Homo sapiens: one gene and its partner. The protein of the gene in region 1 interacts with the protein of each later gene in a pairwise test. Each region holds a gene or a part of one and is shown in the gene's direction. Other genes may lie near its edges.

Region 1 (16,104 bases):
TGTACTGTTGTCGATTTCCTGGTGTGAAAGTTGTCACAATCAAAATGGAGTTACTAATGTTAAGAAACCCTGACAAACAGAGCTAGGGAAGGCTGCCTACGAAGAGAGGGTTCTTACATTTGTATACCTGATAACAAAAACTATCAAAAAAAGACTGCAAAACCCACAACCTTGCACAAAGGCCATCACAACCTTACATAAAAAAATACTTCTGCAAGGACATCTCCCCAGCAAATGCCTGTCCAACCTCGGACTGGCGTCACCCTTGTTATTGATCTTTGTAGTCAAGGATAATTATTTCAAAACAATTATGTAATCCTTTCCATTTTTTCCTTTAAACACCTTTGTCTTCCTTTACATCCCTGAATATGCGGTTAACTGTGATGTGTATATTTTCATTGCAATGCTCTATTCCCAAATAAACATTATTTTCTTTTAGAAAGCCTCTCTGTTATTTAGGTTGACACTGATTTTGATGTCTTACTAGAGCTTTGTAAGATGTCACCATTGGGGAAAGCATGGGACTCTGGACTATTTTTGCAACTTCTTGTGAGTCTATAATTATTTCAAAATAAAAAGTTAAAAAAAAAAAAAAGGAAAAGTAAGTAGGCTGAGTACCTACGGGTGGTGTTTAGGGAAGTGAGCAAGAGGAGCATGGAGAGCCAACCTGAAGCTGAGAAGTTTTTCCAGTTTAACTTATAAAGGACCTAAGCTTGCTCCTCACCATCGCTTTTGCTGTTACTATCCCTGTAGTGCTCTTCGTTCTGCCCATTTTAGACAGCTGTTTCTCTATCGCTTGTTAGGCTGCTGAGCAGAGAACTAGATCTATTCCTAATAGCAAACCAATCAATCCTAGCCCATTGGATGTAACCTCCAGGCCTTGAGCCCTTTTCAGTTATTAGTTTTCCCACTGCCTAATACTGAGAGTCGGCTTTCTTGCTGCCAGAGGTGTTTTTCATTATGACGTCTGAATTTGATGCCACTGCGGGTGCTAGAAGTTGCCAGAAGGCTGTCCTCCAGATAACTGTCCCTTGGCTCTAACTTGTGTCATTGTTTTGTTGCAATTAACATTCAGAATATGTGCGGTCATCTTATTAAAATTTATATTTTTTAATGGAGAAAGCACACAGAGAGAGTTGATTGTGGAGCTGTGGTTTACTCTTGCTCTTAGTTACCTGTGTCTAAATTAAGCTGAACCTCTGGGCCTTAGCTATTTCTAAACAGGCATCACGATTTACTAAGGTTAATGCCTGAGGGAACATTAACCTTGCAGACACTAATCTAATTCAGTGTCATCACAAGTGCATAATGCAGGAGTTTGGAATTTTGCCAAAAAGCACTATTCAAATGAACATTTAGTTGGCAAGGGGTGGGAAGGCGGGTGTGGAAAAGGGAAGGAGAACACCAGAAATGGCTCTATAGATATTTTCATGCCTTTTCTTTTCCCTCTCCCCTCAAAGGTTACGTTTAAGTATTGCAGAGAGGCGCTAAATGGAATCTTCATATTATTATGAAGAAATCCCAATGAACGCGTTTTATCCCACGGCAAGTTCCAGATGCTCACAATTACTCAACATTCACTGAGCATCTTTTATGTTATATGGCTGACCTTGTGCTAGGGTGTGTACACAAAGATGAGTAATTGTAAACGATGGCAGTATGCAGAAGCACCTCAGGGCGCCTAATGTTAGCTGACGAAGGCACCATTAAGGAGGTCACAGTTTGGCTAAAGGGCCCCCAAAGGATGAGACAACTGTGTAATCCTAGCTCTATAGAGATCATTACCAAGTCTTTGCCATACAAAGTTTGGGCTTCAGGTGAAATGAGAAGGGCAAGGTTCTGCCCAAGAGGGTCCAGGGCCGGATCTCTTGATCTGTGTCTATGCCCACACCCTGCATCTCAGCTTGCAGACACTAATAGGGTTTGCCAGTTTCAAGGGCGCAGGGCTACATCTTCCGGAAAAGGTGGCATTTGAAGGTGGTAAGAGGCCAACGACTGGAGGTGGCGGCGAAGGGCTAGGTAAGACAGAATAAATGAAAAAGCCAAGACATTTCTGGCAAATAACCTTTCACCTAGGTCCCCGACCCTTCCATTTCCCCAGGCCTGAAACGCTCCCGAATCCCCGAGTCCTCCACTTTCCAAGCGCTGGGCATTGGTTAAGGCTGTAGGAGCAGGGAGTCCCCCGCTCTAAGAGAGTTCCTCAGTTCCGATCTTTTTCAAACCGCTTTCCTCCCAGGCCCAGCCTGGGGGGCCTGCGGCTCGGGTCCAGCTTCCACGGCCACCCTGGGCTGGTGACACGCAGGCGCCGGAATCGAAGCCACGCTGTGTCTTTCCAGCCAGGTCTCTGCGCCAGACGAGGGCGGGCGCCGCGGAGCGCTTCCCGTGTGCGGGGCTTCCCACAATGCACCGGGCCGGCAGTGGCGGCGACCGCGGCGGCGCTCTAGCTGCGGCATGTCTGCGTCTCTACTGCTCTGGGAGGAGGAAGAGAAGGAGGAAGAGGAGGAGGAGGAGGAGGGGGAGGAAGAGGAGAAAGGCGCAGGGGTGGGAGCTGTTGCCGAAGCTGCCACAGCAAAAGTTCTCCCCCCTCCCCCCTTCCCCTCCTCTCAAGGCCCCTAGAAAGGTTGGAGCTGCCGCCGCCTGCAGTCGGTGACCGCGCGACTCGGCGCCCGCCCGCGGTAAAGCGCTCGGCCTGGCAGGCCCGGGCCCGGGGGAGGGCGGGGGAGGGGGAGGGGGCGGCGCGCGGGGGGAGCGCGCGGCGGTAACGGCCTGACCCCGGGGGGAGCGAGCCGTGGCGAGGCTGGGGGTGGCCAGGGGGCCAGCCGAGGCCGAGGGAAACGCTGGGGCTGGCTGGGGGACGTGAGGAAGCAGGGCGCGGAGGGTGGGTTGGGGGGTTGAGGAGGGATAATGACGGGGGTGGCGGAGGCGAGAAGGCGGCCTCCGAGGCTGGAGGCGGGTGTCAGAGGTAGGGGAGGAGGTGGGATGTTTGCACGGGGAGGCCGGAGGGTGCTGGGTGTGGGTGTGAAAAGGCTAGGGAGACACCAGGGCTCTGTCCACCGTGCCTGGTGCAGTGCTTTATGCACCGCAGGCCTCAGTCACTGTTGCTGCCGGAGTGTGCTCTTTGGGAGAAGGGAAGGGCAGGGGTTGGAGAAAAGGGAATGCTTGCAGGAAACGTAGTGGGAGTGCGAACAGGGCGAGGGGCCGGAGGAAAGATGCCGGAGAGGTGGAGGAATGCGGGGAGGTGGCTGTGGAGGAGTCTTGAGGATTCTGGGGGGTGTTCATTGTGCAGATACGTTAGGTATTTCATTATGGAAAGAACTGAAGCGTTTCTCAGGGAAGGAAAGAAGGGAGATAGGAGTTCCCGTGAATAGAAAGGATCGCGTTTGAAGCAAGAGGGAGTGCTAAATAGTAGAGAAGATGCAGGGAATGCATAATAGAATAGACAGATGTAGTATAATTAATAAATATTGGCCTAAGTACTGAAGAGTTATTCCAGATGGGCCGGGATGGCCTAGTTCCGAACCTGTGTGGGCTGTTCAGTAGATGACATCTGGTAAGTGTGGGTCTGGGCCGTGGTTGGGGTCACTGAGAATTAGATTTTAGTCTGTAGTTTGGTCTGTGACATTTTAGACGTGCACCAATGAGTATGAGAACCTCTGAAGCAGACCTTGAGAAAGGGTCTGGCCTGTGGGGATTCCTTAGGCTATGGAGCTTCGATTTTAGAAAATTTGAAGTATTAACACTTACCCGAGGTTGGGTAAATACTATCCTGGCAAACGCTGGAATGGAAATTAATTGACTTGGTGGTTTTCTTCACTGCCCAGTTTATCTGGTCCAGGAGAATTGGTGCCGTATTATTCAGCCTGGATTGCAGTACACAAGATTATAATTAATGGTCGGGGGGAAGACATGCTTGCTGGCTCTTCTTTAGATACTTCATTTGTAGCTCAAATTAGTTGGCTGGATTGGTTCCATAAATCTGTGGCTGGTGGGAGATCTTCTGCCATTCACAGTTCCTGAAGTGAACTGTGAGGGAGTTCTCCAGTGAGAGAATACTCTCATTCAGGCATGATGGCATTGAAGAAAACGTATCAGCCAGCAAAGTGTGGGCCTGCAGAATGGAGGAGCTAGAATATCTGTTTTGGTTTTAGGTTGCAAGGAGGTCAGGACTAGTTATCAGAAGGTCTAGGGGAACCTAGGAGACTGGACGACTCTAGAGCCAGGTTGGAGGGAGGATTAGCATCTCTATGTCAGGAAATGAACCAAGCTCTCTCTGGATTTGCTGAGCTCACACCAGACCAGATTTCCAAGAGGGAACTCTGGGCTAGAACCATACTCTTAAAAACTACCCGGATATTATTCACCTTTTATTAAGAAAAAACTATATACAGCTGGGCGCGGTGGCTCACACCTGTAATCCCAGCACTTTGGGAGGCCGAGGCGAGCGGATCACCTGAGGTCAGGAGTTTAAGATCAGCCTCGCCAACATGGTGAAACCCCATCACTATGTGAAACCCCACCATGCCAGGCTGGTGTCGAACTCCTGGCCTCAAGTGATCCGCCCGCCTTGGCCTCTCAAAGTGCTGGGATTACAGGTGTGAACCACCATGCCTGGCCAGGTCTTTTTTAAACATAGTATGCTGTACTCAATTTTATTGTCATCATGGCATGAGAAGGCTAGTCTTCCTTCCCTTTTCCCTCACCAGCACTGTATATTATCTGTTCTTTTAATTTTTGTAAGCAGAATGCACTTAAATATGTCATTATTGTCTTTCTACCCTTTTTAAAAAAATTTTTATTTATTTATTTTTTTGAGACGGAGTTTCACTCTTGTTGCCCAGACTGGAGTGCAATGGCGTGATCTCGGCCCACTGCAACCTCCACCTCCCGGGTTCAAGCAATTCTCCTGCCTCAACCTCCCAAGTAGCTGGGACTAAAGGTGCCTGCCGCCACCCCTGGCTAATTTTGTATTTTTAGTAGAGATGGAGTTTCTCCGTGTTGGTGAGGCTGGTCTCGAACTCCTGACCTCAAGTGATCCACCCGCCTTGGCCTCCAAAGTGCTGGGATTACAGGCGTGAGCCACTGTGCTCGGCCTCTACTCTTTTATTATAAAATTGTTCTGAGGGAACTTACAATGAAAAACAGCAGCCCCTGTCTCACCTGCCTATTGCAGTTCCACTTTACTGAGGCTGCTACTTTTAAGCATTAATTTTGTATTTCTTACCATGCTTTTTTCCATGTCTCCAAGTAATGGGCATATAATATTATTTCTTGATTTATCAAAATGACATTATCGGAGTCAGAAGATGTTTATGAATGTGTCATTGACATTATCCCCTTTCTCCTCCTTTCTGACCTTTGATATTTATTTTAGTTATTTTATTCAGTGTGTTTATATTTTTAAATAATATGCTTAAACCTTGATTTTAGAATCCAACAATCTTAGGCTGTATCTCTTGATTTCCCCATTGTATTTTAGGGATTTAGCCTAGGTATGGCTTTCCTGAAGTAGAAAGAACATTGACAATTAGACTAAAAATGCTGGATGAGATGATAAAGAGAAGTTTGGATGGACCTATCAGAAAGACCATGTTGTAGGAACCATCTTTGCAGTGTAAGATTTGCTTGTTAGAGATGAAGAGGAGTTGCTTGACAATGATAGTTGTTCATCTTGGAATTAGTTACCAGATTGCAGTATTTTTTTTTTTTTTTTTTTGAGACGGAGTCTCGCTCTGTCACCCAGGCTAGAGTGCAGTGGTGTGATCTCGGCTCACTGCAAGCTCTGCCTCCCAGGTTCACGCCATTCTCCTGCCTCAGCCTCCCGAGTAGCTGGGACTACAGGCTCCCACCACCACGCCCGGCTAATTTTCTGTATTTTTAGTAGAGACGGGGTTTCACCGTGTTAGCCAGGATGATCTCGATCTCCTGACCTCGTGATCTACCCGCCTCCGTCTCCCAAAATGCTGGGATTACAGTCATGAGTCTCCGCGCCCGGCCTGATTGCAGTATTCTTTGACAGTCTTCTGGAGAGTTTTAGTGTGGGAAATCTGGAAATGCATTAAAATGACCCTTGAATGTTTTTTCTAGGGTTCTGTGGCAATTCTTTTTTTTTTTTTTTTTTGGGACGGAGTCTAGCTTTGTCGCTCAGGCTGAAGTGCAGTGGCACGATCTCGGCTCACTGCAACCTCTGCCTCCTGGGTTCAAGCAATTCTCCTGCCTCAGCCTCCTGAGTAGCTGAGATTACAGGTGCCCGCTACCACACCTGGCTAATTTTTTTGTGTTTTTAGTAGAGACAGGGTTTCACTGTAGATGGTCTCGATCTCCTGACCTCATGATCTGTCCGCTTCGGCTTCCCAAAATGCTGGGATTACAGGCGTGAGCCACTTCGCCCTGCCCCCCCCCCCCCCTTTTTTTTTTTTTTTTGAAACAGGGTCTCACTTTGTCACCCAGGCTGAAGTGCAGTGCGCATGTTCCCAGCTCACTGCAGCCTCCACCTCCTGGGCTCAAGCAATCCTCTCACCTCAGCCCCACAAGTAGCCGGGAATACAGGCATGAGCCACCACTCCCAGCTAACTTTTTTTGTATTTTTTATAGAGACGGGGTTTCGTCATGTTGCCCAGGCTGGTCTTGCACTCTTGGGCTCAAGTGGTCTGCTTGCCTCAGCCTCCCAAAGTGCTAGGATTACAGGCGTGAGCCACCGTGCCCGGCCACAATTCTTATGTTTTTATTTTTAGGAGGTAATGGATTGGCATATACATGTGTTTTTTGGGGGGATGTAGTAGGGAGAGATGGGAAATGTGGTAAGAGGAGGATGAGGATGAGGAACAGGGTTTGATGGAGGTGGTGATACATTTTGAGGAGGCTGAAGAAAAGGTAAAGAATTTTGAGGGGGATTTGGATATAGTTAATGTGAAGGAGGTTTACCTTATGGTGATGAGACTAAAATTTTTGTCATTTTTAAGGAAATTAGCATGTTTAAGTCACTAATATGTTGGGAATGTGGTAGGAAAAAACTATACTGGGCCCAATCTCCTCTGTTAGGTTAGAGTCATAAAATATTAATGTTTTTGAAATTTGTGTATGAGGTGCAAATCACTATGGTGGATGTTGGGAGATTAGAAAGATAATTACTCCACTTCTTTTTGGGAGTCTAAGTAATGGCAACTCTTGAGAGTCTTCCTTACTTTCAGTAGTAACAGTATTCACATGTAGTTTATGTATTGCTAAATTTTGTATTTGTGACAATTATTCTCTTTGTTTTGCAAATGGTACATTGTAACCTGTTCTAGAGCAGAGACTTCCTGTAGTCTCTAGGGAAACTAACAGCAGGTTGATTCTTAAGTGCTTAATAAATACCTGTTGAATGACTGATAGAAAGTAGTGTTCACTGTTAGTGATAATAGTGGGATTGTATGAAATTGCTGAGTACTTTGGGGGTATTGTAGGCAAAACTGTGTGTGTGTGTGTTTGACAGCGTGAAGGACAAAAGGGATATCTGGAGAGGACCTTTAGATTTAAGGGAAGAAGACAGACTGGATTAGAATGGAATTGCAGTGGTTCTGTAACAACTTGGAAGAGGTGGGACCAAGGGGTCTCTTCTAAATTTGAAGCTAGTTTAATCTGGAGTAAAATCTGGTCTGTAGCAGGGTGCTGGTTTAATTTAGATTTTTTTTTTTTACCTCAGGCATAAATGACTGTTTTAGGACTGTCTGATTTAATTCTTTTTTAGGATAGTAAAAATAACAGATAAGCTTCTTCTCTCAAGGAATTTGTAGTATTTACAATTTTTTTTTTTTTGAGACGGGGTCTTGCTCTGTTGCCCAGGCTGGGGAGCAGTGGTGCGATCTCAGCTCACTGCTGGGTTCAAACTCCGCCTCCTGGGTTCAAACAATTCTCCTGCCTCAGCCTCCCAAGTAGCTGGGATTACAGGAGCGTGCCACCATGCTCAGCTAATTTTTGTATTTTTAGTAGAGGTGGGGTTTCACCATTCTGGCCAGGCTGGTCTTGAACTCCTGACCTCAGGTGATCCTCCCACCTTGGCATCCCAAAGTAGTATTTACATTCTTTTGAGAGAGAAAGACAGTTGTGAAATAATTCAGTAATGGTATAAGATTTCAGAAAGTTGATTTTTAAAAACAAATATCAAAATTATATCTCCAGATAAGAACTTTTATATTTCGGTGGTCATTTTCAGTAGCAGTGTTCAGAATGTTTTTAGAACACCTTTTCTGAATTAACTTCTGAGTACAATTCTATAGAATTTACCTATTTATTGAGTATCTAGTGTGTGCTGTTGGGGGAAGGGGTCTATAAAGGTGAGCGAAACATGGTCCCTGTTTGCTAGGAGTTCATAATCCCTTCAAGAGGCACACTTTTTTTTTTTTTTTTTTTTTTTGAGGTTGCAGTATTCTTTGTCTTCTGGAGAGTTTTAGTGTGGGAAATCTGGAAATGTATTAAAATGACCCTAGAATGTTCTTTCTAGGCTTCTATGGCTTTTTTTTTTTTTTTTTTTTTTTTTGAGGCAGGATCTCACTCTGTCACTCAGGCTGGAGTCCGGTGGTGTGATCTTGGCTCACTGCAACCTCCGCCTCCTGAGTTCAACTGATTCTCGTGCCTCAGCCTACCAAGTAGCTGGGACTAGAGGCACACACCAGCACACCCAGCTAATTTTTGTATTTTAAGTAGAGACACGGTTTCACCATGTTGGCCAGGCTGGTCTCGAACTCCTGGCCTCAGGTGATCTGCCTGCCTTAGCCTCTCAAAGTGCTGGGATTACAGGTGTGAGCCACTGCGCCGAGCCCAAGAGGCACACTTTTGTTTGTTTGTTTGTTTTTTGAGATGGAGCCTCTCTCTGTCACCCAGGCTGGAGTGCAGTGGCGCCATCTTGGCTCACTGCAACCTCTGCCTCCCAGGTTCAAGCGATTCTCCTGCCTCAGTCTCAGAGTGGCTGGGACTACAGGCGTGCACCACCACTTCTGGCAATTTTTTGTATTTTTTAGTAGAGATGGGGTTTCGCCGTGTTGGCCAGGCTGGTGTCGAACTCCTGGCCTCAAGTGATCCACTCACCTTGGCCTCCCAAAGTGCTGTGATTTCAGGCATGAGTCATCACACCCGGCCAAGAGGCACACTTTTAAATAATACATGGTATAATCTTATTCTGAATGGTCTTATTGATGACAGATCTTTTTACTTTGAAATTTTGATTTTTAGAAATGCTGAAGGTTAGTCAATATCAAATAGAGTGAATGAAAAATAGTTTTGCCTTAAATCCAGTTAATCACAGAAACGGGAATAATTTTCTTGGTTGACTTATTAGCTGATTTTGAAAACACTCCCAAGGAGGAAGTTGGAAATATTTTGAACAGGGGTGATAGCTTCACATGTAGTTAGTTAGGCACTACATAAATGTTGGTTGAGTGCATCAGATGGTTGGATGGATGGAGTGAATAAATGAGTAAGTGGTAGCCTTCCAAAGTAACTTATTTTAAAGAGGACCATACTGATTTGAATGTGTAAATAAATTTTTTAAAAACTCATTTTTCTCAGATGAAATAAATTCTGAGTATGTTTGTTAATAATTTTATTACCTTGAGCAAGATAGTTTAAGTTCACAAATGAGTTTTACAGACAGTAAGTGCTGTAGGAGTTCAGGGAATGGAGAAATGAACATTGGCTAAGGTTTGGTGAAATGATTTAAGTGAACCATACTTATATTTGAAAAGATTCCTTAGGGATCTCAGAGAGGAACTAAATGACTCCAAATTCCTCTTGCAGCCCTAAAGTGAACCTAGAGTCTGGATCTATTTTTGTCTGAATGCTTTCTGCCTGTTTCATTTTAGCTACTCCTACTGGTTTGTTCCTTTCAGATTCACATTTGTTGGTAGATGTTGAGCCCCCTGAAACAACTATGGGGTCTGTTTTCCGTCTTCGTATAGTGTAACTTTTAGTTGTTCTTTTATGAGCCTGTACCCCACAAATTACTTGGCCTTCATGAGAGAAGAGCATGAGTCAACTTGGCCCTGTTATCCTGGCATTTTCCTGCATGCTTTTCTCAAAGCTGCTTTCTGAATTACGGAATAGAATAGACAGAACTGAGGGCATGTGTCCAGTAGACACGAGCTTGTTGAATGAATGAATGAATGAATGAATGAGATATTTGAGATAATTTAGGAGATCTGAATTGTCTATATGTTTTATGTTTCTTTTTCATTTATTCATAACCTGCCTTTTTCTACAAAGGACTTAACAGGGCTGCCAAACTATATGCACTAGCAATGAATTGAAATAATTCAATAAATCTGGTTAAAGAGATGATGAAGAAAAGAAAAATCTGTTTAAAGAATATAGATCAATGTGTATCGGTGTTAGAGAACTAGGAATAAGGTAGAAGATAAGCAGATGGGGAAGGAAAGGTGGTATCTGATAGAAAGCATGATTCTGAAGGAGGGAAAAGATTACTGAAATATGACAGGCTATCTTTGGAGGAAAGCATGAGAAGATGGAGGGTAAAGAGGATTATTTGAGACGGCTGTTTTGAGGAGGAAGATGGTAAGGCTATTTGAAGGATAAGAGTCAACAGAAGTTTGGAATATAGTAGAAGTTATTAAATTATGTTGATTTATAACAAGGTTTCAGAAAATGATGGGATGAGCTTTATTTAACAGATAATGCACATTTGTTATATGCAAAAGCATATAATGCTTTGCTGTCAGGAATAAAACCTTTGGGATTTATATTGTGGTAGGGCAGCTGGACTTGTGCACAAATACCTGTACTATAATCACAAATATATCTGTGAGTCACAAATATACCAAATATTACTGAATTTAAAAGGCAGAAAATGCATTTGATTAGGAGAAAACCTGAGACAGAACTTTAAAGGCATAAAAGTGGAATTTTAGCTAGTCTTTGAAGGGATTGATAAGATTTTTTTTTTTAAGTTTTGGATTGATAGGATTTTGATTGGCAAAGATTACTGAAAGAGAGCATTCCTGCCTGAGAGATTAGCGTAAGCAAAGGCTTGGAGGTGAGAAGCCCAGGAGATGTGGGGAATGGTGAGTTAGGTTTTAATTTTTAAACTATGACCTATAGTAAGAAATACATGTCACACTTCTATCTAATATATGCATGTATGAATGTTTGTGTGTGGGTAAAACAAGAAGTTTCATAATACAGTAACTGTCCTTAACAGTGGCAGGTGCAGTTGGATGTTATCTATTTTGTTTGACTAAAAAGAAAAAAAGCTGGCCAAGGGGGAAGAAAAAAAAGCTGATTGTCACTCATTAAACTGATTTCATGACCGACAAAATAATTAATCACAATCTATAGTTTGGAACGCAGAGAGTTCATGAATAAGGTATAATACAAGGTAGGAGAGTCAGTTGGGGTTGGGTTGAAAATGGATGGCCTTGAAAGCTAAGCTAAGTAGTTTGTATTTGATATGATGTAGTGTTGTGCTTGGTAAGCAAACAGAAGCTGGGTTTTAGTCTTGGCTCTTCTGTTTACCCACTGTATGATTATGGAGAATTATTTCCTTTCTGAGTTTCCATTTTCTCATAAAATTGATAATCATACTTTCCTGGCAAGGGTTATGGTGAGGATGTGAGAATTAAAGTATGTTAACATATGATTAAAGTATGTTAGCAGAAATCATTAGTGTATAGCTGTTGAACTTTTCTGAGTAGAGAATTGAGCCAAGGACCGTATATTAGATAGCTGGCAATAGCTATACCTTACTGGGTAGATTGCGGGTAATGTGGTGGTAGAGTAAGATTGTATGTGAAAAGACCAGTTAGAAAACAAAAAGACCAGTTAGGTGGCTACTGGAGATATTAAGAAGGGCTTGAATTAGTTTGATAGCAGTAGGATTAGAATATGGAAGTGGAATGCAGTTGGAGGTAGGGAAGAGGGGAAGATGACTAGAAATATGCTATTTATTTATTTATTATTGAATGAACGAACGTGAGGCTCTTGATCTGTTGCCCAGGCTGGAATGCAGTTGTGTGAACGCAGCAGCTCACTGCAGCCTCTACCTCGTGGATTCAAGTGATCCTCTTGCCTCAGCCTTCCGAGTACCTGGGACCACAGGCATGTACCACCACGCCTGGCTAATTTTCAATTTTTTTTGTAGAGATGTGGTCTCACCATGTTGCCTGGGCTGATCTCAAACTCTTGGGCTCCAGTGATCCCCTCCCTCAGCTTCCCAAAGTGTTGGGATTACAGGTGTGAGCCACCATGCCTGGCTGACTGGAAATTTAGAGTTGTAGAAATATTCAAATGGCAGCAGCTGAAATTGGATTATATTTTTGGGTAGTTTAGTGCAGTACATTAGAGTATAATTTTAGTTTCTTTCATGTAGTAGGTGCTCAATTATTTGTTGAATGATAGAAACTAAATACGTGGACTGTGGGATGAATTGTGAGTAGAAGCAGTGATGGGTGGATGTGAGAAGGAGGGTTAGACTGGAGGATACTTTGATGGACTGCCAGAATTTATTCGTTCAGGGTATATTTTTATATTTACTGTATGCAATGGACTGCCAGAATTTATTCATTCAGGGTATATTTTTATATTTACCATGTGCAAGGTTCTATGGTAGGGAGTGTGAAGGATACATGTTTATATATGACACAGTCCGTGTTCTTCAGGAATTTATCCAGGGACAAAACATACACATCCATCTATGACACAAGTACTGTGGCAGGTTTGTTCAAGGTTGGCTTTGTGGAGAAATTGGTGCGAAGCTTAGACCTTGAAGGATAAATAAGATAATAGGCAAGAAGGTGAGGGTTGGCTTTCCTAGAAGAAGGAGTGATATGAGTGACAGTGAGCAAAGTTCAGGACATGTTTAGGGGTTGGTGGTCTAGATTAGCTATAATTTAGGGTTCATGTTGAGGAATGGAGGGAAATAAAGCTGGGAAGTAGGCAGACTATCTCAAAAATTCAGGCTAACTTGGATTTTGAAAATGTATTTATTGAGATAAATACAGTAAAGTGCTCCAATCTTAAGGGCACTTAGGTATAAATTTATGTAGCCACCACCCAGTTCAATATACAGGACATTTCCGACTTCCAGAAGGATGCCTCATGTGCCATTTCCAAGCTGATATCTCATCCAACCAAAAATAACTATTATTCTGACTTTTGTCATAACAGAGTAGTGTTGTGTGTTTTTGAATTTTGTATAAGTGGAACCCAATTTCTGTGTCTAGTTCCTTTTTCTCAAGGAGCATGTCTGTGAGTTTTATCCATGTTATGTTTGGCTGTTTATTCTTTTTTCATTGCTGTGTGGTATTCTATCATATGAATATACCACAGTGTATTTATCTATTCCATGATTATTGGATGGTTTCAAGTTTTTTGAAGTCTGAGGTGTTCTGTTTGTTTTTTTCAGGCAGAGTCTCACTCACCCAGGCTGGAGTGGTGCGATGTCTGCTCACTGCAACCTCCGCCTTCTGGGTTCAAGCTATTCTCCTACCTTAGCCGCCCTAGTAGCCAGGATTACAGGCATGTGACACCACGCCCAGCTAATTTTTGCATTTTTAGTAGAGACAGGGTTTTGCCATATTGGCCAGGCTTTTCTCAAACTCCTCACCTCAAGTGATCTGCCCACCTCGGTCTCCCAGAGTGCTGGGATTACAGGCATGAGCCACCATACCTGGCTGAAGTCTGAGGAGTTTTAACTTAAGTCAGTATGCAGTGGAGAACCAGTGTTGATTTTTGAACGGGTAAATAAGAGACTATTTAAGAATACTAATCTGGTGACCTTTCTCTTTTTGTAATGAAGAGAACCTGGTGACTGGGAGACAAAGTTAGGAAAAAGTGTGAAGTAGGCTGGACACAGTGGCTTATGCCTGTAATCTCAGCATTTTGGGAGGCTGAGGCAGGCAGATTGCTTGAGCTCAGGAGTTTGAGACCAGCCTAGGCAACATGGCGAAACCTTGTCTCTGCAAAGATAAAAAAATTAGCGGGGCATGGTGGCACATGCCTGTAGTTCCAGGTGCACGGGAGGCTGAGGCAGGAGAATGACTTGAACCCAGAAGGCAGAGGTTGCAGTGAGCTGAAATCTACACTCCAGCCTGGGTGACAGAGGGAGACCCTGTCTCAAAAAAAAAAAAAAAAAGTGTGAAGTATTGAGGGTATAAGTTGGGTAGTCATAGTGGGAATAAAAGGAGAGGGATAGCTATAAGAAATACCTCAAAGAAAGAATGGGAAGGTTTGATGGCAGATAGGCTTTTGGGAAACAGTAGAGAAAAAGAAAACTGAAGAAAAGCTCTAGGGCTTTTAATCTGGGTGACTGAGATTGATGGTGCCATTAGTAGAAATTATTAGATCACTTAGCAGAACTGTTTTGGGGTTTTAAGACACATTGACCTGTGTGTGAGGCATCAGTACTGGATTGGAGCTAAGAAAAGAAGTCCAATATAGAGTTGGGAATACATACATAGAGTTGATAATTATATAGCTACTAATTTTGGATTTAGTTAGGGCACTGACGGTTATGAAATTATTTGGACTGATAATTGAAGTGTTAATTGAAGTAATAGTTGAAGAATCTAGTTAAAAAGAAATCATTATGCATTCCAATTCTAGTTAAAAAGAAATCATTATATATTCTAATTCCTCAGGAGTAAATTGGATTGTAGGAGAGGGTGATGGTTTAAAGATTATTTTGGGTAGCTGGGGGAAGACAGCCATATGAAGAATGAAAATGTAGAAACAGTGGTGAGGGATGAGACCCTCAGTGGCTGAGAATTATAGGAGGCTCCAGGTCAGACCTTGGGAAAATATCCACAATTTGGGCTAGGAAGAGCAGCAGTGATTTCAGATAGAAGAAACAACCAGAGAGGTCAGAGTAGAATCATTACAGTGACATAAAGCAAGGTGGGTAGCTTAAGTGTCATTGCCAAAAAGAGGGTAAGGACTGGCCAAGCATGGTAGCTCATACCTGTTATTTCAGCAGTTCGGGAGGCTGAGGTGGGCATATTGCTTGAGCTCAGGAGTTCGAGACCATGCTGGGCAACATGATGAAACCTCATCTCTACCAAAGATAACAAACTTTGCTGGGTGTGGTGGCGCGCACTTGTAGTCCCAGCTACTTGGGGGGCTGAGGTGGGAGGATCACTTGAGCTTGGGAGGCGGAGGTTGCAGTGAGCTGGTATTGAACCACTGCACTCCAGCCTGGGTGACAGAGTAAGAGCCCGTCTCAAAAAAAAAACAAAAACAAAAACAAAAAAAGGGTAAGGACTTTGGTGGGGGATCATATGATTTGGAACATAGATTTTTTAGTTTTTGTTTTTTTTTGTGGTCTTCAAGAGAGCAGTTCAGAGACCAGGGTGCATGGTGGTTTACTGAGTGGGTTGGAAGAATATGGAAGCAATAAATACAGGAATTGATTAAAGAAGTTTAGTTTGAGAAGGAAGAACAACAACTCTTATTCTAAAACTGGAGGCAAGAAGTAACAGATGGATGAAGTTACAGCATTTTAGAAGCTGTGAAGAGGATTTGATTACAGGTGGAGAAGGTGTGATTTGAGGGAATTTTATAGAAGGGTTCGAGTATTTGTTGGAATTAGGGATTTAAATATGAAAATGATTTGGATTAGTCAATGAGACGGAGAGTTGTATTTAGAATAAATCTGTTGTGGAAGATTTCATAGCTTTCTGGTGGTGCTTAACACCCAGTGCGTGGGCATGGAGAAAACAGATGGTGAGGATTGTCTATCACTGGGGAGATGCATAGTGAGAATAATGGAAGGTCATGATATTCTGGAGAGGACAGTGTTAAAATGGCTGTTGGACAGGTTTAAATTATATAGGGAGACAATAAAGCCAAGTGGAGGTAAAGAGCAGGTCTACAACTAGAACATAAAGTAGTTGTGGATAAAGAAAAGGGGGGTGGTCTCTGAAGTTACAATCCTAGTGGATTGTAACTATTTTTTTTTTTTTGAGACAGGGTCTCGCTCTGTCACCCAGGCTGCAGTACAGTGGCATAATCTTGGCTCACTGCAGCCTCTGCCTCCCAGGTTCAAGTGATTCTCCTGCCTCAACCACCCAAGTAGCTGGGATTAAGGCATGAGCCGCCATGTCCGGCTAATTTTCTGTATTT
Region 2 (16,104 bases), on another chromosome or scaffold:
CACTGGCCCCCACTTTGTTTCTTGGGTAATTCACAGGGGAATTCCCAGTACTGTCATGGAGCAGAGCAGGCAGTGGGTGCTGATGTGTGTGCATGAGCTGTATGTACACATGCATATATCTGTTACAGAAGATACTCCTGGCAGTGAGGTGCTAAGTCATCACTGAGGCTGTGTGTGTGTGTGTGTGTGCGCGTGCCCGTGTCCATCCATGTCTCTGTTGTGTGTCTGTGTGCGGGTATGGGTGGGATTCCTGGTGGACAGGGGTGTCAGATCTGTCTGAGGAGCCCCAGTCATGCTCAGCACGCTACAGATGTGTTGTTTGTCACACTGAGATTGCTGAATGTCGTGGCTGTTGGCTGCCGAGCCTCAGCTGCTGGCATTTCCTTCTGCTGTTTGCTGCTTTTGTGCCTCCCCCACTTTCCATCACCTCTGGAGTCCCGTCTGGACGTCCCTTCCTGCTACAGGAATAATGAGGCGTGGGCTGCCTCCCGCTAGGGCCTCCTGCTCCCTGTAGGTAGTTTCTGGCTGAGGCTTGCTAATTGGGGATGCTTCTTAGAGCATCTTCCACATCAACTCCCCTGGCTGCTGGCTACCGATTAAATTCATTAGTGTGAAAGAGGTGGGAGTGAGGTTTTCTGGCCTGAAGCAGTCTGCACTGAAAGGTACCCAAGTGGCCTGAAACAGTGTAGGGAAAGACCTGGGAAACACTGGACCAAAAAAGCCTGATCTCATGGAGACCTGCATGGCCCTGTTAGAGATGGCGTAGAAGTGAAAGTCTTAAAGGGAGCATTAGAGATCCTTTTAATACACGACTGAGTGCCAGCTTATTTGTGATGCCCCTTCCCAGACCAGGTTAGGATTCCTGGGAAGGCCGCGGATTCCGGCCCTGGAAGAGGCAGGATCCTGGAGCAGTTTTGTGAGGCTTTTGTGCTCCCATACGCCCCCTGGTGGTGAGTGTAAAGAAGACTTTGCCTCTCACAACTACATGTATGTGTGGCATTTTTGTTAGAGATGAGAAAAGGATTGAGAAGGATAAACTGGAATCCTGGTAAGAAGCCTTTATGCCAGCCCGACACCTGCTGTAATTGGGGTGCATGAGCTATGGAGTCAGATAGTTGTTGGGAGGGGGAGGACAAGAAGTCTATTGTTTGGACTGTGTTTGTCTCACAATCACCACAAAATAAAAGTGTAGAAAATGCTTGTGGTGTACTAACTCTTTTCTGTACTTAAGTTACTCAGATTAACATGCACTTCTAATTCTAAACATTTTTTTTGGAGTCATCACTGTCGCTGTTTAAGTAGAACAATGCCAACGATGTATGAGAAACAGGGAATAAATCAGGATTTGTGTGTGTATGTGTGTGGCATTACTTACATTTACTTTATTAAAAAGCCTAAGGAACTTTAAAGAATTTGTATTCAGTTTATTTTTATTTTTTCAAGACAGAGTCTCACTTTGTTGCCCAGGCTGGAGTGCAGTGGCGTGATCTCGGCTCACTGCAGCCTCCGCCTCCCGGGTTCAAGTGATTCTCCTGCCTCGGTCTCATGAGTAGCTGGGATTACAGGCGTGCGCCACCATGCCTGGCTAATTTTTGTATTTTTAGTAGAGACGGTTTCACCATGTTGGTCAGGTTGGTCTTGAACTCCTGACCTCAAGTGATCTACCTGTCTTGGCCTCCCAGAGTGTTGGGATTACGCCACTGTACCCAGCCTTAGACTCAGTTTAAAATGGGCTTATTGTAATGAAAAAAAATACGCTACCCAAAATTTGCCATGATGCCTGTGATGGTGAAGGCATTAAACAATTGAAATCTTTGCCTTGCCCAGAGAGTTGCAGTTATTTGTAATTATAAACAGTAAGTGTATCAGGGCAGGGGTGACAATAAAAAACCAATCATTACTACCAACTTGTTTTCTCAAGTAAGTTAGTTTTCTGTTTAATTCACACAATATCAGTTTATAGCAGATCCTCAAAAATCATTTAATACCTGTGACTACAATCAAGGCATATGATCATTCTCAGACTGACAAATAAGTAGCCATCATTAGAAATGCAGACAACTGAGTAATTATGGTGACTGCTCTTCCTTCAGACACACACCTCGGGGCATTGCATACCTGGGTACCAGTTCTGGATCTGGAAGTTAGGTGACAGGAGTAGATTTCAGGAGGGCTTGGGAGCACACAACTTTAAGAAGACACAGTTGCTGATGTGGTGGGTAGCCATGTCATTCCCAAGGCTGCCACTTCACTCTCATTCCTTTCCCCTAAAAGATGCAGTAAATGTGAGTTCAGCAAATGAGTATTTATTCAGATAAAGACGTGCTACCACTGCACTCTGGCTAGCGTTATGGAAAGTGGCCAAGTCCTGGGGGCAGTCCTGTAGTCACTCAGTGGAATGGTCACCTTTGAAAATCTGGTAGTGGCTACAGTGTCCCCTGAACAAAAGGCACGTTCAACTTTAGTGCTGCAAACAGTTTTGGATTCAAGAAAACACTGAAACCACTTTTAGATGTCTTAGAGCAGTGTATCTCAGGGTGTTGTCCCTGACCCAGAAACTTAGGAATGCAGATTCATGGGCCCCACCTCCAAAGGGTGGTTCTGTTTTGTGGGTACCCCATGTTTCTGTTTGGGAACACTGCTTTAGGGGAAAGGGATGATCAGGTTTAAGGTGGTGTGAGAGTGCACCTGGAGATGGTTTAAATGTTTTTTAAGATACCTCCTTGCAGGCAGTTGGGAGAAGATAAAGCAGGGGAGGGAGCTTGGTGGAACGGGTGCAGGAAGAAGGGACAAGCTGGATGTGTTTTGAGGATGGGAGAGCATCAGTCCAGCTCTGCAGGTGGAGGTTGCTGAGCGTTGTCCTATAGGGAACTTTATGCATAAGGGAAGTCAGGTTTAGAGTCCTCACTACTATAAAGTGGAGTTGGTCAGGGCTGATTTGTTCCGATTGAAAACCATGCCCTTTGCTTTTTGGGTTTACATTTAGATATTTCCCATCAGAGATCATGAGGAATAGCAGTGGGATTTTTCTATTTAGCAGCCATGGTGTGGTCAAAGCTACCAAAATTAAATTTGAATAATATACAAAGTTCAAATTCCCTGGCTTCCCCGTTTTCCATTTTTAAGGATAATTTCAAGTAAGAGAGATGTAAGTATTTCTATTACATGTCTGATTTGAATATGAGAGCAACCTGTCTGCTCCTAAGATGTCAGGATTTGTTTCCATTTTTTATTTCCAGGAGTCAGATTCCTTGTTAATGTAAAAATGGTTCTGTTTCCTAGAAGTTTTGAATCTGCTATGGATCTAGGTCTGGCCCCTCGTTCTTGAGCTTCACTCTTAATTTCCCCTGGGTGGAACAATATCGAAGAGAGGAGGATGTTAGCCACTTCCATTCCCAAGTTGGTGAGAATTTCTATAAAGGACACCTGCTTCTTGGATTGAGGGTGTGCAGCTGTCAGAGAAGGGAAGAAACTACCTTAACTAGGCTGATTGACATCCATGTAATATTTACTATGAGACAGGGAGAGTGTTTTTATTCTCAATTCTTTAAATTTAAAATAAGACAGGAAATGTTAGTGACATAAGGGATTGTTAGAGAAAAAAAGATGGGAAGATCCGTAAAGTGAATTTGTTAGGGGCAGGAGAAGCCTGACTTGGCATTTTCCTGTTTAGGCCAGGAGATATTACCATAATGCAAATGTGAAAGCCTGTGTTCTGTCTCTCTTAATGCTTCATGTCCTCTTGCAAATGAGACTGCCTTCAGCACAGCTGGAATTATTAGGGTTTAGTCTACACTTACGCTCTACACCAGAGTGCAAAATCTTTTGTGTCTTCACAAGGCTTGTTGATGCTTGTTGCTGTCCTCACTGCCAAAAGAAAAGGTTGGTGACCTTTGGACTTTTTCCACTTAAAGTAGGGTGATACTACTTTATTGAGTTTATGGGGAAAAAATTATAAAGGTGTCAGGGGAAGAGTTTGCTCATAATGGGATATTTTTAGGAAAGTGAAGGCATGCCTGTAGGAGCTAATGGGAAAGATGTGGTCAGATAAAGATGCTACCACTCCTGCCACTGAGATTACTTAGGAGGTCTTGTCCACATATTCCTGAAGAAGGGTTTAATTGTGTATTTGGTGTGCTGTGTCTGACATCTGTGTTTGCAGGTCCGTGTAATCTAATCAGGTTGACCAATAGAAGATTTTAGGACTGAAGGATTAGGGGAGTTTAGAGACTAATTCTTTAAGTTTTGTGTATTGAGTGATGACAGGTGGGGAACAAATCTAAATGTTGATTACTGAGCATAGGTTAGGGTTATGTGATCCAAAGCAGTCACACATCAGATAGGAAGTAGAGCCAACTCTTAGCACTGGGTCTTTTCAGTTACAAGCGAATCGGGAGAGGGCAATACCAGTTTTTCAAGTGATGATGCAGAGAACTGGACTGGAGATGTCTAACCAGCAAATCATTGGCAAAGCTGGAAATTTCCTAGGCATTCGCACACCTCATAGCAACACATAAGCTACCTGCTAACTCCAGGCCTTTCAGTGAGTTCAGTGTGCAGTTGACAAAGACATTTACTAGGATTCTTGGTAACCATTTGGTCTTCCAGTGGGCCTGGTGCAGGGGGCTCCACTTTGATGACCCTTGGCCCCATGTTTACCCAGTTCAGCCTCAGAAGATAGTTGATAAAGTGCAGAAGTGGCTTCTGAACTGCTTTAAAGCCATTGGCCATCCAAGTAATAGAAGATATTGATGCAATAATTAGCAAAGTCGACTGGCAAGAGGTTGCAAGTTTTGACTTGGACACCAATGGCCTCTGTGCCGGGATGGGTTAGGTGTGATGGAGGAGGCAGGACTTTTGTAGGAGTTCTCTAGGTGTCCCTCCCACTCCTGTGGGTCCCTAACCCTCTTCGATGTTGCTTCTGCCTATGTTGAGGGCTATATGTGGAATCCTTCTTATCTGCCCAAAAGGAGATCAGAGATTGGATAAAATGTTTAAAGTACCTATTGATTTCAAGTATCTGTCAAGGCCCTAGTAGGAGTAATTTCTCTTAGGTAAAGAAATTTAAAAAGCACCAAAGTACTGTTATACTGTATTGCTTACTTAGAATCTTTATTCTCTACATTCTAGGTTCGGAACCTCACTTACATGGTGACCCGCAGGGAAAAGATTAAACGGTCTGTGTGCAAAGTCCAGGAACAGATATTCAATCTTTACACTAAGCTTTTGGAGCAAGAAAGAGTTTCAGGTATGCATTAAGCCCTGGTAGGTCAAAGTATAGGGCAGGGGTTTGTAAGCTTTAACACTGTTGAGGAAGAAATAATCATTTCTTAATTTTCTTATAGAAGAATTTAAGAAGCATAGACGTTCATATTTAAAGGAAGTCTTTAATTTGAGGCATCATGTTTAAGGGAAAAAGCTATGAATTTGCCCTCTATAAATATGGGTGGAATCCTGTGTTCTCTGCTTACTGAGCAAACACATGAAAGTCTTTTGAGTCTCCCTAATTTCTTCATGTGCAAAATGGAGATATCGCAAGCTACCTCTTGGAATTGAGAGACTAAAATGAAACAGTGACTTATATATTACACAGTACTTGGTAAACACATCATGGGGATACCTAACAGGTTTATATTCAGCCTTGGGCTCTATCTGTAACATGGTAAATATGGTCAATATATGTTAAGACTGTACTTAAGACACAGTCCATTTTTAGATAATGTTCACAGTAGATTTTTTTTGTGTAGATGGATTGTTGACTATTTCTGAGATTGAGCACCAAATATTTATTTAGTGTCTTCTATTTTATATTGCCCTGGGCTAGGCAAACAGAAAAAGAAAACTAGGGTATATACTTCCTCTACTCTGGACAACACATCAGTTACTTGGGAGATCAAGGGCAAAGATCAAGTTGGGCAGGTTGTTTAACCTCTCTGAGATTCCGTTGATCTTAAAGTTTGTTTTAGAATCAAGACCCCTTAAGTGCATTTGAGCCCTATATTCTGTGATCATAAGCCCCCAAAAGTAGGTAGTATAAGGATTTCAGAGAAGCAGAGCTGCTGAGTGTGGATCAGGCAGAATTAGGGACCCATGGAACAGGTAGGTCTTAGACTGGACTTCATTGGAAGATAGTCAGCCTCTCTCCTGCCTTGGACTGCCCTTTAAAGTTCTAGCTGCACCATTCTTGGTGCTTGCGTTGTGCAATCATAGTTGATTCACTCTTGTTTTTGTGCATTTGTGGCTTTTTGTCACTCCATCTAGATTATTATGGTGCACAGAGAACAAAGAAGTTGTTATAACCTGTTGTGTTGAAATCCAAATTCTGGTTTATCTAACCAATTATGTGCGACTAGAGGGAGCTCGGTCATCTGAAGAAATAAAAAAAGGTTTAGGGAGGTTTAAATAATGTTCTTGAAGTGTTACATAGTTTGAATGCAATAACTTGTTGATATCCTAGATATTTTCTTCCCAAGATTAAGTATTTTCCAGGTGAATCAAGTGTATATCATTAGCTGGAACTTGCAGTTTAATTGTTAAGATTTTAAAAATAAATTTTCTAAGTAGGGTGTCATATGTAAAAGTAGGTCGATTCAGATTCCCTAAGGTGAGCTCTCTCTTCATGATTCCTACCTGAATACAAATAAATGAGATCTGTTTAACTGCCTTGGAAGACTGTCTGGTGCAGATCACCGAGCCTACAGCAGCAAATGCTGAGCTGGGATCACTAATACAAGTTGTGCCTGTGGAGTTGTGCCATTGGAGGGCTTTCTGCAACTCTTAGGTCATTATGTAATGAGTGATTCCCTGTAAAAATAAGCCGTAAAGAGCATTTTCATCTGGTTTCATTTGAGTTATTTCTCATGGATATTGCAGGCAGGTTTTTGCATTTCATGGCTGAGGTTTTTACTGGGTGAGCGAATGATATTCTTAATAAGTCTGGGAGTTATTTTGTGGTAACAGAGCTGTAATGTAGATCTGCATTCAGAAGTCCTACTATTTCAGAAAAGGAAAACAAATCTTCCTTTCATTCTGATGTAAGAACCATAGGTATGATCAGTTGAAAACATTTATCTTCCTGTAGGATTCTGTTGAGTAATGCAGTTGAAACCCTTTAGGGTGCTTTTTTTCTTTTTCCAGTCCTAGGCTTCAGTCGTGTTCTTATTCATGCCTAAAGGCTGTCTCCTGCCTGAAGTAGAGCAGATGGTCATGATTTATATGTCATTTAGGGTCCATGGTTTAAACTCTGTGATTCTGAGAGTGGGTAGGGTCATTTGCTGAGAGTGTCCTCAGTGGCAACAGTGCTTATGGGGGGTGGGAGGGTCATGAGTTGGAGGCTCTTTAGAGACATGGATTACAGTCAAGGAGATAGAAATCAGAGTTCAGAAAATGTTAGCCTCTTCTTACCATTCTCTTTTCCTGTGGCAGGTGATTGAGTAAAAGAAATATATGCAGTGTGATGTGAAGGTTGATTCTAATGATTGATTCTTGAGAAAGCAGCATTTCCAAACCAGCAGGTTGTAAAACACCTCCTGTGGTCATGACAGCTCTGTGTTCTGAGTCGCTAGCTATGTTTCATTTGCTTGCAGTGTCTGTGTCTGGTGAGCACTAGGTTCTCATATGGCCTCCTGTCTCATAACCTGGGGGCTGAACCTTGTTTTCTTGGTGGCTCATATCTTATGGGAGACAGAAAACATGAGAACTGCTCTTTCTAGATGATCTTGAGGCTGTTGTAGAATCATGGTCTTTATGACAAACACTAATGTGTTATGAATTCACCTGCTAGGGGTAACAACTCATTAGTGGGTTGTGAGATGAATTCAGTGGGTCATGACCAGTATTAAAAACAAGTAAAGTATAATAGGAAATGTCAGAGTACATTATCAAATGATGAGGGTTAATATTATTTCGTGAAATGTGAACTCTTACTAGGTCATGCTGTGGAATTTAGTCACTGTGATTTGCATCAAAAAATACGAAAAACATCAATTTAACTTACTTCAAGTTGAATGACAATTCAGTTGAATCCCACAAATGTATTTTGCACATAATAATAATGAACATTTTTGGAACGCTTACTATGTGTCAAGAATTATTTCACACATTTCCTTTATTCATTCACATGTTTACATGTACTTGTCCTCGTAATAGCCCTGTGAGGGTACAGACACATAGAGAAACTTACAAGCCCCGAGCCCTGCTTTTTGGGTCCTCTCAGTCTCGTACGGGAGGCAGAAGACTGGACCGTGGAGGAGCGCGGCGCAGGTGCTGCTCTGTAACCAGGTAGAGGGAGCAGAGGCAGCCATCAGCCACCTGATGAGTTCTGCATGGAGTCCGCTCTGAAAATCAGATCAGTTATTTTGTTTGGAGGAGGTCTAGTTTTATGAAAAATTATGTGAGCTTCAGCTGTTTTAGAAAATGTGGCATATTGAGTCTGCAGATTGAATGGAGATTCTCAAGGCAGGTCATCTCTTCACTATAAAAACCAAATTTGTACAAACTTGGTGGTGTAAGTGTTGTGTTGTTGGGTGGGGAGTTCACATCAATTGGGCCACACTAAGGGTGTAGAATTTTATTCTTTTGGATTTGCTTCTGCTGTAATTTTTCTTTATTTGTGGTTTTATGTTTATAGGTGTGCCTTCTTCCTGCTCCTCCTCCTCACTGGAAAACATGCTTTTGTTTAACAGTCCTTCTGTTGGCCCTGATGCTCCCAAGATAGAGGACTTGAAGTGGCATTCTGCATTCTTCAGAAAACAAATGGGTACTTCCTTGGTTCATTCGCTGAAAAAGCCCCATAAGCGAGATCCTTTGCAGAATAGCCCTGGAAGTGAAGGCAAAACCCTGCTGAAGCAGCCAGACCTGTGTGGTAGAAGGGAGGGGATGGTGGTCCCAGAGAGCTTTTTGGGTTTAGAAAAGACCTTTGCAGAAGCACGTCTCATATCAGCACAACAGAAAAATGGTGTGGTGATGCCAGACCATGGGAAAAGAAGAGACAATCGTTTTCATTGTGATCTCATTAAAGGAGACTTAAAGGACAAATCTTTTAAACAGAGTCACAAGCCTCTCAGGTCCACAGATGTGTCCCAGAGGCATCTGGACAACACAAGAGCTGCCACCTCCCCTGGAGTGGGGCAGTCAGCACCTGGCACAAGGAAGGAGATAGTGCCCAAGTGCAATGGCTCCCTAATCAAAGTAAACTATAATCAGACTGCAGTCAAAGTGCCTACAACACCTGCCAGCCCAGTGAAAAACTGGGGAGGATTCCGGATTCCAAAGAAGGGGGAACGGCAGCAGCAGGGAGAGGCCCACGATGGGGCCTGCCACCAGCACTCAGACTACCCATATTTGGGCTTAGGCCGAGTTCCAGCCAAGGAAAGGGCAAAAAGCAAATTAAAATCCGACAATGAGAATGACGGGTATGTCCCCGATGTGGAAATGAGTGACTCAGAGAGTGAGGCATCAGAAAAGAAATGTATACACACCAGCAGCACTATCAGCAGAAGGACAGACATTATCAGGAGAAGCATCTTGGCTTCTTGATGCAACAGAGATGATGCGGAAGCCCTTTGGGCTCGTCATTGGGTTTGCTAGAGGAGAGCTCTGATGTGGGGGAGAAGCAGAAACCCATTAATCCTGAGCTACACAAACACATTTACTTGCAATTCAGATTAATTTTTTTCCAGAGTCATTTTTAAATCATTTTTGTGAGAAGTTTGTGTTATTTGCAACTTGTTGAGGAAACAGAAGAGTAGATTGTAACCATAAGACACTGCTAAGACTAGAACCCGAACTGAACACTAAAATAAAAATGAAATGTTTTAAAGAAGGCAAGGCTTAAATAAGCCTCATGAATTTTTATAGCCCTCTGCATTCTTCCCAAAGCACAAACTCATGGTTACCTGAATATAGGGAACCAGATATGGTTCTTGAGAAACCCTCATGGTACCATTCACAGCCCATAAAGTTTATTTTCTAGGACTGTGGTAGATCTTGAAATCATATTTATATTTGGCCCTCAAGGCTATTTTTGTTGCATTATAGCATATAGGCAGCAGCTCTGAAGCTTCAGTAACACTAAGAAATTTATGTGTAAATATAGCAGTCAGGGAAGAGAATTTTAAAAAAGGTCATTATTGAAGAAGCTGAGGGGACAGGGTAGAGCTGCTGCAATATGGAGATTTAGGGTAATATGGCAAGGTCCTGCTGCTTGAAGCCTGTGAGTGGGTTGTGGATATGGGACTGGTGGAGAGTGAGACTGTTAGGAAAGTTGTATCTATGAATAAGGGCAGTTGAAGTAGAATTTTTACCAGTCCACTTGACCTTCTTCTTCCCTAACCACTGGCTCTTGAGCCAGCTTGGGATTTCCCTGGCCATTGCCAATACCTGGCCATCTGGCTTCCAATAGTACAGTGGCTACTCAAGTTCAAGCGAAGAACTTCCAGACTCTGGTGACTGTTACTTCCCAGAGCCAACCACTAGTGCATATGTTAGGGAATCTGGGCTTCCAACATGAATGGATTCCTTAAGAAAAAGGAAAAAAAAAAAAAAAAGAAAAAAAGAAAAAAAAAAGAAAAAAGAAAAAAAGAGAAAAAAGCGAAATAGGTTATATTTTAAAAACAATAGAAAGGCAATAAGTTGCGATAAGCTCTTACTATTGACCAAGGTTATACAGGAAAGAGACTGAAGTGTACCCTTGAATAGGTTTTCTGTAGTCAGAGTTCTAAACTCTAATTTGTAACTTGGACTTTCTAATTGCAAATGGCAATAACTATTAAGTTATCAGCAATAATAAATTTAGCATTAAATTTGAGTACAATGTTTTGTTTTTGCACTCCCCATAGTGCGTATGTATTAAGACAGTGGATAGTGTTTAGGTCCTGTTAATTTTCTTTGGAATTCAATGTGGTTGTGAATCAAACTTAAGGAAGGAACGTTTAAATAGCAATGAGATACAGAATTATGGGCCTTTGGAACAAGCCCGACTTCCCCTAAATTCTCCTTAGTTTGTTAATACCAGTATTCAGATTCCTGATTCATTTATACATCTGTTTCCATATGGCAGGGACATTATGATACTTAATGAATAATGCTTTGAGGAGTTCTGCAGTTAACTTTCAAGTCTTCCAGATGATTGTCAACAACAAAAAAGGCTTATTGAATCCCATCTTGCTATGCAAGTTTTATCAGATGATCAAATAGTAGATCTGATACATCCCCATTGTATGTACGACATTTTCAAACCAAGTCTTAACTTTTCAAGGACATTTTAGTAGCTAATTCAGGGGAGGGGGAAGAATGATGCAGGTTTTTAGATTGACTGACTATTTTTGAGTTATGGGGCTCATTTTGAAAGACTGCTGTCCAGATCAGCTTGTTGCTGCAGATAATAGAAGGTTCTTATGAATCCAAGTTGTATATTCACTTGTAGGATAATTTAAAAATTAGATTTTTTTTGCATATGAGCAAAAACCTTTTGCTGGATACAGGAGAAGGTTGGACTTTATCTACAGTTATCTTTTGATTACAGCAACAGCTCTGGGTGAGAGTAGAATTTATAGAGGGATAATTTGTCAAGCCATAGAAAGAAAATCTAAATTAATCTAGTAAGTGTATGACCTCTCACCATTTTAAGAGGTATCAGATTCATTTGCACTATTAGGAATGCTAGTTTTGTGCAAAAATAATGCCTTACCTGTTTTTTCCCCACATTTAGGTTGAAAAGCTTTCAAATGTTCCAAGTTATGCTGAACCAAAAAAAACAAAACAAAAACAAAACAAAAAATATTAAAAAAAACCCACACAAAAACAAAACACACAAAAATAAAAAGCCCACACTTTTTATTCCTGCTTCGAAATGCAAATGGATAGAGCACGGTTTCTCTGACAGTATAATGATAGCTTTGTGAGTTAGTTTCATGTCATGCTGGGAACTCTCTATGAGGTGGCCATAAGCAGCAACCAGCCCAAACACCCACTTGCGTTCTATTAGTATGGAACCATTTGCATTTGTTTTTTTTAAGCTTTATCTTTCCTTGTGCATCCTGACCAAGAAATATCTTTGATTATGATTAATGTATTATGTCAAAATGTAGGCTAGTTAAACTTTTGTAAAGTTGCCTGGAATGTCATTTGTTAGGTTATAAACACAAGATCTAAATGAAGGGTTTTATGTGTTGTGTACAAATCTTATTTTGAAATGGACAAACTTGTCATTACATTTGTAACCTTGTACAGAGGATTTTTCACTATGTGCCTAGCTTGGTGTCCATTCAGCTAAAATTGAAAAAAAAAAAAAGGTGCATGAAGAGTTAAAAATCAAATTAAAGTATATGTAGAGATGACTATTTTATATTACATGACCCAATCCTGTATTTATTTCTACCCCCTTTTTGAAAGTATTTATAAAACTAGTTGAGGACAGCTGTATTTTTTTGTTGAACTATTTAGTAGAATTGTGCCTTTTTGTCTGTATGTGAATAAATGCTGTACATTTTGCAATACATTTTAAGTGTCTTTTGAAATCTGCTTTTGCTAAATATTTAAAGGTATATATGACTTAGCAGTCCTGAATCAGTTGTTTACTGTCTTCCACTTTAAATCAGGAATGAGAACTGTAGAGAACATATCAAATTTGTGCAGAGCACAGATTCACTGGGCTGCTTTCTGGCTCAACTCTGATGGCGAGACTGAAAAATAACGGTTTGAGTTTAGTCTTCCCCACCTGGAGTTCTTTCCAGAATACAGTTTTGGATCTGAAAACAGAATCGTTGAAACAACGTAGACTTCAGGGTCAGAGAGAACTGTATTTAAAGGCTAAACTATAGTTTACCAGGCACATGACATTGGCCAAGTCACTTAACCGTTTTAAGCCTCAGTTTTCCCAGAAAGAGGATAACATCTTAGTAACTTAGATATTGAAGTAGTTGTGATTATTTAAAGCAAGTCCATTGAGCACCTTACAGAGAGCATATATTAGGCATTTAGTAAGTGGTAGGCTATTATTTTTATTAGGAACAAGACACTGATGTTTACAATATTTTAACTAATGAGCTTTCTGAGGTGAAAAAATATTCCTGAATGATGGGACGGTTGTATTTTTAATACAACCTTTAAATAATTTTTAAAAATAATTTTTCAAAGAGCAGTTTCATTAAATGCTTTCTTTTGATCACAGAACTCTGGGACAGTAGGGCAAAAAAATATTATCTGCATTATACACCTTAAGACTTGGCCAAGATCACAGCAGTAGGTACTGGCAGAACTGGGCCTACACTCTCATTCTCATTTCTGAAAAGATTGTTTCCTGCCTGAAACAATCTTTTGTACATCCACTACATGCAGAAATTAGCATATAGTGAAATGCACCTTTTTCTTTATGTTGGGAACAGCAAAACTGGTGTGAATTATGCATTCTCATGTAGATTATAATGATTAGGATCCAAAACAGGGTAGCTATCTTAATCTAATTTATAATTTTTGTAAGGATTTGGCCAGTTTAAAAGAAAAAACAATTATTCGTACATTTTGCTAAAAGCTTCTCATTTCTCCTTAGTGACTATTTACTTCCATATTGCTTGCTCTGAGTAAGACCCCTGAGAGAAACAACTGATTCTTCCTACAAGGTCTTAAAGTTGAATAACCACAATAGTTCCCTAGGGAAATTAAGTCCCCAGGAGCCAAAGGAAGGGCCTATCATTGGCAGCTGTGCAATCTGTGATGGGAAATGTCACACCAGGGACTCACGTTCATGTTTTCACCCAAATCACTGAAAAAACAGTTTCTACCTTTGAAGCATTAGCCATCTGCAACAAACTTCACAATTAACTTCAAGGTTGAAATCTTCAATATGATTTCCCTTTAATGCTCAGAACTCCATTAGATGATGTGTTCTAGTCTGAGGTAGGCTTTGATTGTCTGGTCATTGAAAAAGAGGATAAAGGCAAATCCAATGGTATCTACTTCCTTCACTTCAACTGTTCCCTGTACTACTTACTCAGTTTGGTATTTCTGCAATCCAGCTTTTCTGGAGTGTGAAGAGATTGCTTATTGGGCATCCCCTCTTGGATGTATACAGGTACTTGAGATTTTGGAACTCTTTCTATATCCTGTTTTAGAGAATGTCCTCCTAGACTGAAACCTGGGAGTCCTTTATGAATTCTTCAACTCTCACAGCCAAATAGTGATCAAGGCCTGTGTATTACATTTAATATTGCCTTAATATTTTTTGCTTCGATCCCACCACCATTTGCTATATAATTCAGGTCTCTTCATTTTTTGCCTGGATTACTGGTTTCCTTAACACAAGTCTTGCTGAAATTAATCTCTCCAGCATTTGGCTGAAGCCTTGCCAATGGTATCTCCATAGTGATGACTTCTGAAATAAAAGCTGATTTTGTCATTCCACATAGCCTTTGGGGGAACCTCCTGACTTCTGTAGATAATTACAAAGGTTTATCAAGTGGCAGGCACTGGTATGTATTATGTTAATTAGTTTAATCCTTATAACGTGAAGTAGGCACTATTATCTCCAATTTACAGATGAGGAAACTGAGGCACAGAGAAATTAAGTAATTTGCTCAAGGTCAGTAGGGGTAGATCTGGGATTCAATCCCAGCCTGTCTGGGATTGAGACCCGTAGGCTGTACTGCCTCTCAGAATATAAAAATAGTTCACACATGGCCGGGTGCAGTGGCTCACGCCTGTAATCCCAGCACTTTGGGAGGTGGAGGTGGGCAGATCACGAGGTCAGTAGTTCGAGACCAGCCTGACCAATATAGTGAAACCCTGTATCTACTAAAACTACAAAAAATTAGCCAGGCGTGGTGGCACACGCCTGTAATCCTAGCTACTCAGGAGGCTGAGGCAAGAGAACTGCTTGAACCTGGGAAGTGGAGGTTGCAGTGAGCTGAGATTGTGCCACTGCCCTCCAGCCTGGGTGACAGAGTGAGACTCGGTCTCAAAAAAAAAAAAAGTTCACACAAAGTAGTTAGCATATTTAGGACTACACGTGTAAACTTCAGTTAAATGAATTGGTAAATTTATTGGTAAAGCCAATAAACTTGGTTAAAACATGTTAATGCACTGGTTAAAAGACTTTGAGTATAACCTAATAGATAATGAGCAGGATAGTCTGCTTACAGTCAATTAGTTCCAGCCTTATTCTAGGGAGAATGGAATTAATTGTCACATGCATATTTATGTAACACACATACATACAAACATATTTACAGATCAAATATATGTATATGTAATCAAAGAAAACAACACTGCTATCAAAGAATAAAAAGAATAACTGAACTCTACATCCTAACTGCTTGGAAAGTTAGTTACAGAAATACTTAAAATCACATAGTTTCTTGATGTTGAGAACTAATATCTTAACACTAAATTAAAGCTACGTAAAACCTCCAAGTCGGCATTTTTGTGATATGAAGTATAATAAATCCAGTTATTTTTACAAATGAATAAGCAATGCAGAATTAAGTAGCAAAGATAAAAATAATGTGTATTGTCATTCCTAATGTATCGCCAATGTGTCCTGATATTCTCACTACTACTTGGCTTATATATGGCCGAGTTTTACAAATTACATTTATAATTATGGGTTAATGTGATTATTTTACTCACTAATCTGGGGTGATTGATAGTTCTAACTTCAGGATTATGACCAGTGTAAAACAATTTCTTTATGAAGCAAATCTTTTTCTTTGGTGTTTCCCTTCCCATGCAACAGTTTCAAAGAGAGCTTTTCTCCTTTTTCCCACCAACTTTGGCTCTAATTCAGTTCCATCCTTGGAGCTTCTCTTTTTTATATCAAAAGCTTGTGATGGTATCTTTGCCTCAACTAGTCTCAAGTACTCTAAGTAAATACCTTTCAAACTCCATACTTTAAAATATCACACTCTGAAAGGAAATTATGCATTATATCACTTTACAATAACTAAACACAATTTAACATTTTTTTGGTCGATTAAAATTGGTGAAATTGTCATCACTCATTGAAGAAATCTGGAAACTTTCAAAAGAGGTATTAAGCTAATTATTATAACTTCCTTTGCTTAGATCTATTTTTTTCTACTACTTTACTTACATTTAGCTTGTGGCCAA

The links.
Region 2: the proteins of ZNF148 (region 1) and JADE1 interact in binary tests that used the Homo sapiens proteins (3 or more experiments, as listed by UniProt).

Annotation. Positions count from the first base shown.
Region 1 is NC_000003.12:125,361,673-125,377,776, reverse strand, and holds the start of ZNF148 (zinc finger protein 148), read left to right. Parts: upstream 1-2,451; 5' UTR 2,452-2,675; intron 2,676-3,067; exon of another isoform or gene 3,068-3,550; intron 3,551-16,104. UniProt on the Homo sapiens protein: Involved in transcriptional regulation. Represses the transcription of a number of genes including gastrin, stromelysin and enolase. Binds to the G-rich box in the enhancer region of these genes.
Region 2 is NC_000004.12:128,862,726-128,878,829, forward strand, and holds the end of JADE1 (protein Jade-1), read left to right. Parts: exon of another isoform or gene 1-1,907; intron 1,908-5,130; coding exon 5,131-5,248; intron 5,249-8,629; coding exon 8,630-9,537; 3' UTR 9,538-12,499; downstream 12,500-16,104.